3 linked regions of the Homo sapiens genome follow. The protein of the gene in region 2 interacts with the protein of the main gene of each other region in a biochemical or structural test. Each region holds a gene or a part of one and is shown on either strand. Other genes may lie near its edges.

Region 1 (3,727 bases), on a different chromosome or scaffold from region 2:
GAAGCATGCTGCAAAGTCAGCCAGTTAAGAGGTCACCTTTGGATCTGGAAGTAGAGCTGCGGGCAGGCTACCTCCAAAGGAAAGTTTTACTATGTCAGCCTCCCTTTGGCATTGCAGGGGAAAGGGCAGGAAGAGGTGGGAAGTGGGGCTGAGAAGTGTTCCCCAGGCCTCTGCTGAACACCTTCCTCTCAGATGGGCAGTCCTTGGGGAGCACCAGTTTGAACTGCTATGCTTACAGATGAGAATCCTTAGCCTTGGAAAGCAACAGGGGCTCGCTTAAGGTCACACAGCTATTTAAGGATAGGCTCCTGCTTCCCGTGCAGTGGCTCTTTCCACTATGTTCCATGGAACCAGCAGCCTCCAATCAATGTAGATTTCATTAACCATCCCCCTCATCTTACCTCCCTCATTCCCTAAGAGGAAAGGGGGGCTGAGTTAACTTGGGAACTTCATAAGGGGAGCCTCTCACTCGTTTAATGTCTCTTTTGCCTCTTGGTCTTGGCCTATAGCTTTGCTGGGACTGAAAATTTCAAAAGGAGAGGAGGTAGTTGGAAGAATTTGGCAGTCTAATGATCCCCTCCTAGCATAGTGGAGGTATTAAAAATTCCTTAAGGGCTGGGCCTGGTGGCTCACACCTGCAATTCCAGCACTTTGGGAGGCCTAGCCGGGTGGATCACTTGACCCCAGGAGTTCGAGACCAGCTCGGGCAACATGGCAAAACCTCATCTCTACAAAAAATACAAAAATTTAGCCAGGTGTGGTGGTTTGCACCTGTAGTCCCAGCTACTTGGAAGGCTGAGGCAGGAGCCTCTCTTGGGCCTGAGACATCAAGGCTGCAGTGAGCCATGATCATGCCACTGCACTCCAGGCTGGGCAGCAGAGCAAGACCCTGTCTCAAAGAAACACGAAATTTCCTGAAGAACTGTTACATCTCCACTCGTAGATAGTGTGTATGGAAGAAACAACTCTGCTCCACTAGGAAACAGTAGCAAGCCTGGCAGGTAGAACCAAGAGGGAGAAGGGGTTTCCAGCCCCCTTGCTTAACAGATAGGCTATCTGAGGCTAGAAGAGAGAATGTCCAATGTTATTTCAATTTCCCTACCTGAATCCTGTCTGGGCAGATACAGTGGGTGATAAAGGGTTAAGCCCCTGAGGCAATATTTCATAGCCTTTCTGTGTCACTCATTCCTGGGTCACCTGCCTCATTGCCCAGTTCTTTCTCAGGGATAATCTGAGCCTGTCATGCTATAGTTAAACCTTGTGTGTGTGTGTGTGTGTGTGTGTGTGTGTGTGTGTGTGTGTTGGGGGAAGGAGTTGCGAGCAGCTGGCCACCATTGCTCTTCTGCTTAACGATCTATTGGAGATTTCATAGGCATTAAACTCTCTCTGCACCCCCAACTTCTGTTCTCTGAATTAAATAATCTCAGAGTCTTCCATCTCCTCTGCTTCGTCTTATTTTTCAAACCTGTGCGTGTGTAAGTGTATTTCTAGCAAAGGCAGGCAGGGGAACCAGAACCACTACAGAGGTACAGGTGCTAGCCCAGTAAGAGTATGTTGCTCCCTCCACCTCCCCTTTTGGAATTAGGGGAAAATATGAACAATGGAGAAAATGACCTGAGGGGCTTGGTGTGGTCATAGGCAGGCATACTGGTGCTGCAGTGGCCTTTGTGACCCTTTGATGTGCATTTTTTTTCAGCATAGAGGTTTCATTGCTTTCATCTCCTACAGTTTTTACCCCCGCTGGGCTTCCAAGTGGATACTAACCCTCCATCCCTAGTGAGTATGCCTCAACCCTCCCTCTCCATCTGCTCAGCCCTTCTTGCTGGGGGCTGTGGCTCTTTTCAGGGGAATGAGGAATGGCATGACCAGTTCTGGCCCCCCTCCTTTCTGGATATGTTGGAAATATTCACAGGCCAGACTCAGTGCATTTTGAAAGAGCAAAATGTTGAGGGGTGGTGTAAGGAGTGAGGCTGGGCCACAGTGCACCTTTGTCCTGAAGTGGTGAACTAGGTCGAACCAGCTAGGTAACCAGGCCTAACAGTAAGACCTAGGACCCTCAAAGCCAATCCAGTGCCCCCTGCTATGCCTTCTGACTCAGCAGCCATTAGAAAACTGGGCACAAGACCACTCCTCCCCCAGCCTCTCAGGGCAACTTGGAGCAAGCAGACTCCCTGGTCCAATCTCCCATTTCTATATGAAGAAACTGAGGTCCAGAACAGGGAAAGGATTTGCTCAAGTTAACTCAGAAGTCCAAAGCTCCTGGTCCGCAATTCAATTCCAGAGTTCTTCCTCGAATCACACTCTCCTTGTCCCCTCCCAAGCTTCAGTTTCCTCACTTGGTTTCTCACACAGGGCATGGTTAGTAGAGGGGAGTGGACACATAGGAAAGTCAGAGGTATCCATTGTTCACTTGACCCAGCTGCTCCTCTGTAGGGTTTCCTTGGCTGCTCTGTCACATCTGTTTCTCTGGAGTTAGCTCCTCTCCTATTCTTCATTTGAACGGGGGGTGGGGAAGGGTTGGCACCTGTCTGATCTCGCTCTAGCTGGGCTAGTACTGACTTAGTGGAAGCCTATGCAGGCGGGCATGGTACCCACTTCAGATACACTTCTCTCTAAGAAAGTTTGGGAGCCTAAGATGGGAGTGGCAAGTAAGTGGCTCCCAAAGTCCCTGTCATTCAAGGCAAGCTGGGCAGGGAGGGGACCTCAAGAGCCTGAGGAGGAACCTGGGGCACTAAGAAGACTCACCAGGAAAGCCCATTTCTAGGGAGAGGTGGTATCTGGGTGACCACATCTCCCAGACTGGGCAAACCCCTGTGTATTTGGGGCTGGGGCCAAGAGGCAGAGAAACAAGGCTGAGAAACTTGTAAGGAGCATTCAGGGAGAGCAAGCCTTTAACATCAGACATAGGGTTTTGGCCCTTATCCTGTAGGCAATGCAGAATAATTTGGTAAGTGGAGGAGTGAAGTGCTGAAACAGGAGTTGTAAGAAAATGAATCTGGCAACAACGTACAGGATGAATGAGATGGGAGAGGGGAGCCAGGGGGTGCTGCGGTAGGGAGGGACTAGAGGGAGCTCAGCTAAGAGGCTTGTGTCATCTTCGGAGAATGTGGGGTGGCAATTGGGGAGCTGGAGAGGAAAAGGTGCCTACAAGTGGCCTCATCACAAGAGCCCTTTATTGAATATCTGCTTAGTATGTAGTTACCAGTTTGCTTTTACATTGATCATCTCTAATCCTTACCACAATCCTGCATGGTAGATAGCATTTTCTTCATTTTACAGATAAGGCATTTGAGTGTCAGAGAGGTTAGGCCACTTTCTCAAACCACACAGCCTATAGAAGGTGAGGCTGGCATTCCAGTTCCGCACCAAGAAACTTCAGGTGAATTAGAATTCAGTTGAATCAGCATTGTTTGAGCTCCTGCTGTGTGCTAGTTGTAGTGACTGTAAGATGAAGGAGGGTCAATTTGAGAGAGATGAATGAACAGACCAAAGCCCGTCAGGATGAATTATACAAAGCTCAGTATGTAAACAAATCAGTTGAGAGGGGCTGGTGGGGGAATTGGGACAGGAGAGAGAAGTCCCAATTTGGGGTCTTGCTGCATCTGGAGTTGGTGAGATGCCCTCTGGGCAGGAGGTGCCCCTCAGCAGGAAGGCTGCAAATTAGGGGAGGAGCTGAAGGGGCTCTGCCAGCTGCATCTACAACTCCATCAGCCAACCAAGCCAAGCA
Region 2 (3,727 bases):
GCCCACCTTCCCACTGCAAGGGCAAGAGCTGCGAGTCGCCCTGGCCTCCGGTGGCCGAGGCTGTGCCCCTTCCTCGTCTGCGAGGCCCCCTCCTGGCATCTGTAAGGCTCCCGTGGTGCAGCCGCCGCCCGCTGTCCCCTGCCCGCTTGTCCCCCACCCGCTGTCCCCCGCCAGCTTGTCCCCCACCCGCTGTCCCCTGCCCGCTGTCCTGGTGCTGTCTGGGGGTTGGTTTCCTCTCTAAACACACAGGCAGTCACTGCTCACCCCCTGAAGACTGAGGGCCAGAGCGGGAGCCAGGGTCGGGCTGTGTCCCCTAACCTTCATCTCCCACCTGAGGTCACGGCGTGGACTCCCCTGACCCAGGGCCCAGTCCACTCCCTCCAGCAGAGGGGCCTCCTGCCTGTTGCTGGCGGTCCTGGGTTTCCTGAGTTTTATGAGGAGGTTCTGGCCTTCTGCAGGGACACAGCCTCACCCCAAGCCCCCTCCTCACTGACAGGCGCACGCTCACCTGTGGGCGAGGCCATCACTGGCGTTGGGGGCAGCGCCAACACTCTCTGAGTAGCCTCGGGACCTTGCCCCATGGCTGTGTGGTTCCAGGCCCCAGGCGAAGCTGCTCTGGGCCCTGCGGGTGGCCTCGGCCTCCACCTGCTCCTTGGGCCGGGCTGTGCTGTGGTGGACGTGGTGGTGGACGTGTCGGTGGTGGTGCAGGCCGGCCGCGTCCAGCTTCGCCCCTGACTTGGGTACGTGCTTCCCGTGCCCCGAGGCGGCACCCCCCAGTGCCACTGGCATCTTGGCCACGTGCCCACTGTCCGGGGAGCGATGGCCAGGCCCAGGCGACTGGCGGCCAGGTGTCCTCAGCACACGCTGTACGTGCTCGTCCAGGATGCTCTCAGGGTTCTCCTCGTGTGCATCCCGGAGCCCGGCACAGCCCATGTCCACACAGCGGGGCGGGAAGTGGTGCCAAGCGGGGGCGGGAGGCAGCTTGTGACACGGCCCTGGGGGCCCTGACGATGGATCGCCGTCCTCACCTTCCTCCTCCTGTGTGGGGACAAGCAGCACCATCACCTCTCAGCACCAGCTGCACACTTGGGGAAAACAAAAAGCATCAGGCCTGACCCAGCAGCCCCAGCAGATGCCGTCCCAGCCCAGGGTGGCCGGGGGCCCCTCGCCACCGGTCCTGTCCCTGAGGATGGAGAGGCAGGACGGGGCATAGACAGAAGGAGCGGAGACAGCAAGGCCTCAAGGAATGCAGCGTATGTATCGGCTGTGGGCAGAGCTCTGCACAGATTTAGTTTAGTTTTATTCTTTTTTTGAGACAAGTTCTTGCTCTGTTGCCCAGGCTGGAGAACAGTGGTGTGATCTCAGCTCACTGCAGCCTCCGCCTCCTAGGCTCAAGCGATCCTCCCACCTCAGCCTCCAGAATAGCGGAGACCACAGCCGTGTGCCACCACGCCCAGCTAATTTTTTTGTACTTTGGGGACAGATGCGATTCTCACCATATTGGCCAGGCTGGTCTCGAATGCCTGAGCTCAAGCAATCTGCCTGCCTTGGCCTGTATATATATATATTTTTTGAGACAGAGTCTTGCTCTGTTACCCAGGCTGGAGTGCAATGGTGCCATCTCGGCTCCCTGCAACCTCTGCCTCCTGGGTTCAAGTGATTCTCCTCCTTCAGCCTCCCAAGTAGCTGAGACTACAGGTGTGCGCCACCACACCCAGCTAATTTTTGTATTTTTAGTAGAGACAGGATTTCACTATGTTGGCCAGGCTGGTCTCGAACTCCTGACCTCATGATCCACCCACCTCGGCCTCCCAAAGTGTTGGGATGACAGGCATGAGCCGCCGCGCCCGGCCTCCCATTATATTTTAAGGAGAACCTTGTACAGAACGGCTCTTGGGTTATGTACATGTTGTGATGCTGCCTGACGAGCTTCCACATGAAGCCGGTGGAGTTTCACTTGATTCTCCAAGTTAACAGGTGCTGAAGCTTATCTGTCAGAGCAAACATTTGATCACTTTAATTCCAAGTTGCATCTCATACTTATTTTCTCATCTTATTGGACTGACAAACTAAAACAGTATTGAGTAAATCTGGTGTCAATACAAAAGAAAGAGAGGGAACTAAGTTACCATGTATCTATGTATGTATTTATTTATTTAGAGTCAGAGTCGCTCTGTCAGCCAGGCTGGAGTGCAGTGGCACGATCTTGGCTCACTGCAACCTCCACCTCCCGGGCTCAAGCAATCCTCCTGCCTCAGCCTACCGAGTAGCTGGGATTATAGGAGTGTGCCACCATGCCTGCCTAATTTTTTTGTATTTTTAGTAGAGACGGGGTTTCACCATGTTGGCCAGGCTGGTCTCAAACTCCTAACCTCAGGTAATCCACCACCCTCGGCCTCCCAAAGTGCTGGGATTACAGGAGTGAGCCACCACAACCGGCCTATTTATTTTCATTTTTTTGAGACAGAGTCTCGCTCTGTCACCCAGGCTGGAGTGCAGTGGCACGATCTCGGCTCACTGCAACCTCCGTCTCCCGGGTTCACACCATTCTCCTGCCTCAGCCTGCCCAGTAGCTGGGACTACAGGTGCCCGCCACCACGCCCGGCTAATTTTTTATATTTTTAGTAGAGATGGAGTTTCACCGTGTTAGCCAGGATGGTCTCGATCTCCCGACCTCGTGATCTGCCCACCTCGGCCTCCCAAAGTGCTGGGATTACAAGTGTGAGCCACCGTGCCCGGCCTATTTTTATTTATTTAATTTTTTTTTGAGACGGAGTTTCACTCTTGTGTCCCAGGCTGTAGTGCAATCTCCGCCTCCCGGGTTCAAGTAATTCTCCTGCCTCAGCCTCCCGGGTAGCTGGGATTACAGGCACCCACCACCATGCCCAGCTAAATTTTTTGTATTTTTAGTAGAGACTGGGTTTCACCCTGTTTGCCAGGCTGGTCTCGAACTCCTGACCTCAGGTGATCCACCCACCTTGGCCTCCCAAAGTGCTAGGATTACAGGTGTGAGCCACCACACCTAATCGCAGTGGTGCCATCACAGCTCAAGGCAGCCTCAACCTCCAGGGGTCAAGCGATCCTCCTGCTTCAGCCTGCCAAGTAGCTGGGACTACAGGTGCATGCCACCATGTCCCATTAATTTTTTCTTTTTCTTTTTTTTTTGTAGAGATGGGGAATCTCACTATGTTGTCCAACCTGCTCTTAAATTCCTGGCCTCAAGTGATCCTTCTGTCTTGGCCTCTCAAAGTGTTGGGATTACAGATGTGAGCCACTGTGCCCCACCTACCTCTATATTTTAATATAAACAAACCTCCCAACGTTTAGCACCCAACTCTCACACCTGCAAAAGTATCCAAATGCAACTGGAACAGGCGTGCCCCAGAGCTGGTGTGGGCTTGGCTGCGGGCACCTGCACTGGGGCTGAGGGTGAAATATGGCACTAAAGAGGACAGACGGATGCTGGAGCAGAGCCGGGGGACAGGTGGGTGGTGGGCATCCCCTGGCGGATGCAGCTATGCTGCCTCCCTTTCCTTGGTTTTGTAGGACTAAAGGGCCCGGGCACTCTGGGGAGAAATCTTAACCGAGGGTCTTCCTAGGGACTAAAAGTGTTTGGAGTTTTGATGCCGTTCACTGCCTTGGCCGAGCTCCACATCGGCAGGAATTCTATCATGGGGCTGTGAAATGTTACAGATTAACTTAACCACTCGGCTAATGGTTTTTGTTT
Region 3 (3,500 bases), on a different chromosome or scaffold from region 2:
TTTTGAAACTATTATAAAATGGTGCCATCCCAAAAGTCAGAAGCCACACATGCACTACAAGTACTTTCTAAAATCATCTTTCACTACAAGTACTTTCTAAAATCATCTTTCTCTTGGTTCATTTTAGGCTTAAGAAATACCAAATAAAATTAAATTCCTTGGGTTTAAGAATTCTGATAATGTTTTAAACAACACCTGACTATAAGCTTCTTTAGGACTCAGTCCACACTTAGTGCATAGTCTCATCTGTAGATGCCCAAATATTTGTCCACCTACTGATAACTGGTCAACACACTCATATCCATACTCTAAATCAACTATGGATGCCATATGTAGACTTAAGCACCACACATTTATTAAGAGCTGACATATTTCGGATGTGAAAAGTCCAAGATTTTTGTTTCTGAATCTTGTTAGATACGTAATGATAACCAATATGTAATTCCTATGGCATGCAAATGAATGAAGTGGGACAAAGCTTCCCCTACAAGAAATAAAACAATTCAAAATATGACATTTCTAAGAATCTAATCTAGGCAGCTGCAGCCTGTTTACTGCATAGAAGTAGGCGTGCTTAACGCATACCTCTTCAGTCTCTATTATGACTACTGGTATCAAGTCACATAAATAAACACACTTCATTAACACACTAGGTAAGCTACAGCTATTAACTCTACTGGAAGTATTCTTCATTAATAGGGCTTTATAGCAAAAGAAAAAGATGATCCTCCAAAACTGCTACCTAATACAGATGATGGCTATTTTTAATACCTTCAATAATGAATGAGTTTCCTTCATATAAATTACTGACTTTAGGATATTTTTAAATGATAAAGAAATACAACCCTCAAAATCATCTTAAAATTGTACTGCTCAAAGCCCCTTCCCCCAATTACTGGCCTATATTAGATTAAAATGTACTTTAAAGTCTTCATTTCTAAGTACCTATCATCTCTGTAGAATAGGTGTTCTCAAACTTACTAAAGAATCAGAGATCTCTTGGTAATGTATCACAAGCTACTTTTATATTAAAATTAAAGTAACTACATAATCTTCTGCTAAACAGATATCTTGTGATATGCTGTAAGAGTGGCAGAAAGTGCCAAAGGCATAATAAAATTTCATGGAAGAAAAATTAATAGTCAGAAAATTCTATCCACCAACTCTCTTTGTTTCCCTGTGAATGTGCTATTATCTGACTTAAGCAAACAAAACTCCTTAAGTCACTATTCAGAAGACCACGACTCTGTTGGAGCAAAGTCCAGGCCTTAGTTATAAAAGACCACTTCAATGCAGAATAGCTTACTGTGGTGCACACAAAGTATGTTATGCTCAAGTTTATTTCTTGGACAATTTTAATCACATCAGTTAGTGCATATATTTTAGGACACATGTTCAAAATAAATACTTTTGCATATAAGGAATCTAATGAAACATTATTCATTTTCCCCCTTGGACAATGAATTTAATACACCAAATTTAAAAATCCCTTTTCTTTTTTCCCCCTAATTTGTGATCTCATGCTTTTCCTCTCAACTTTTCCAATTACAGCTTGTGTTTGATAATCAATATACAGTTTACTTAAGCTTAACTGTCCATGTAACCTAAGGCTCAATAAATCTTTCCAAATTTGACAATTCTCTCATTAAAAAGTACTCCCAGAAATATTAAGAATCCATCTCATCTACCCCAGAAAGAGAACACTGAGATTAGGCTGAACTGCCTTCAAATAATTTTAAACAAATTGGCACACAAATTAGTATTTTGAAGAAGAGGCCATTGCCATCGCAGTGCAAGCACGTGGACTGAGATCCAACAAGGCAATATTCTTCTTAGTTAATTAGAGTGCAAGTCTCCACATGGGAAGCCCACCAGATCAAGATGCACATTTAAATATGTAAACATATAGAATTCTCAAATTCTAACTGACACCCAGGTATTGCTAACCTTTCCATCTTCATTTAAGCATCAAGTGCCCTGTGTATCACAGAATCCAAGTTCAATGTCCATTTTGTCTGACACTGTGGGCACTTAGTTCCAGCAATGGGAAGAGTTCATGCTTGTCTGTTTTAGGATTCTGATAGATTTACCATTTGCTTATATGCAAAATCAAGTGCACCTGATTCTTACAGTCTCCAACAATCAGCATTATTCTGAAACCACAATTTTATCTTCAAAAACTTTACTTAGGTATTTTTAACTTGCATGAACAGTTACTTCACCCTTGCCCAAATTCTGAATCCTTTCTTCCACTGTTTTCTCTTGGGCCCTGAAACCCAGAGAGGCCTTGGCAAGACAGAATTAAAAAAGAAAAAAAAAAAATTCAATAATTAACTGACCAACACCTCTTAAGCTAAAAATACATTAGTTTAAAACCATTCAATTTTAGCAGAGAAGTGCTACACATGTGTAAAAAGCAGGAAACGAACTTCTGGCAAGGTGGCAGAGCAAGTGCTAGAATCATTCCACAGGTCAGCCCTGATAGCTCAAGATGTAGCAGCCCCAGTACCATACATGACAGCAGGTCAGGCAGATCACAAAAGAGGCTTCCATTATTCCCTTCCACCCAAATTCTGACAGCTGAGAAGTTAACAGTTTGCCTTCTCATTTAATCCTCATTGTTAAATTTGTTAAACTATCTTAATCCATAATGGGTAAGAGAGGACCCACATAAAAATATTGGGTGATTACAAGAATAATTTGTGGATAATTTGAAAACAGCCTAACATTCACAGTGGGTAACAGAAAGATATTAAATTCATGTCACACATTAGAAGAGGTATGTATGTAGACATTATTCTGAGAAAAACCGGTCTAAAGAACATGAAAACATCACAAACTGTTAATATAGGGAAAATCCTAATAAGAAAAAAATCTTTTTAAATAGATTGTCTCTAACCAGAACATATTTAAATGTTTTACTCAGAAAACAAACAAACAAACAAAATATATATATATATATATATATATATATATATATATATATATATATATATATAAATGATTTCGTACTGTGATATATGCTGAAAGTAGTGCAAGGATATGAGATTTACAACAAAAACATAATGGTTAAATTTTTAATTCTTAAACATTGTCTATATGTGTTGTAAAAAGACATTTTAATGAGCATTAAAACAATCTTGGAAGAAGAGAAATAATATGTCTAACTTTTGATCATTATGCAAAAACAGCAGTCAAATTGAAGAGCTAAGCCTACTGGGGAATGGAGCTAGAAGAAATATTAAAATCAAGTTTAATTTAGAAAATTCCATTTAGTCAATGCTTCAGCTTAAAAAAATCATGGTATCTTAGCAAAATGACTTACCAAGTTGCTGGAGGAGGCAGCAAGGTAAACATACCTAGAGAAAAAAATTCATTTTGACAGAGGTATGGATTCTAAAGGTAGGGACAGAGACTTGCACACACACACAGCTTCATGGCATCTTACCAGAGGGCTGATCTCTCCTACAACAGCAACACCCAGAATGGGTTTTTAGAAA

What was found.
Region 1: the proteins of AXIN1 (region 2) and AMER1 form a complex in vitro, tested with the Homo sapiens proteins (one study listed by BioGRID).
Region 3: the proteins of AXIN1 (region 2) and LRP6 interact in far-western blotting, tested with the Homo sapiens proteins (one study listed by BioGRID).

Annotation. Positions count from the first base shown.
Region 1 is NC_000023.11:64,199,024-64,202,750, reverse strand, and holds part of AMER1 (APC membrane recruitment protein 1), read left to right. Parts: intron 1-3,727. UniProt on the Homo sapiens protein: Regulator of the canonical Wnt signaling pathway.
Region 2 is NC_000016.10:297,214-300,940, forward strand, and holds part of AXIN1 (axin-1), read right to left. Parts: intron 1,992-3,727; coding exon of another isoform or gene 1,971-1,991; exon of another isoform or gene 1,798-1,970; intron 1,086-1,797; coding exon of another isoform or gene 1,062-1,085; exon of another isoform or gene 1,047-1,061; intron 1,039-1,046; coding exon 509-1,038; intron 14-508; coding exon 1-13. UniProt on the Homo sapiens protein: Component of the beta-catenin destruction complex required for regulating CTNNB1 levels through phosphorylation and ubiquitination, and modulating Wnt-signaling.
Region 3 is NC_000012.12:12,117,045-12,120,544, forward strand, and holds part of LRP6 (low-density lipoprotein receptor-related protein 6 isoform b precursor), read right to left. Parts: 3' UTR 1-3,500. UniProt on the Homo sapiens protein: Component of the Wnt-Fzd-LRP5-LRP6 complex that triggers beta-catenin signaling through inducing aggregation of receptor-ligand complexes into ribosome-sized signalosomes.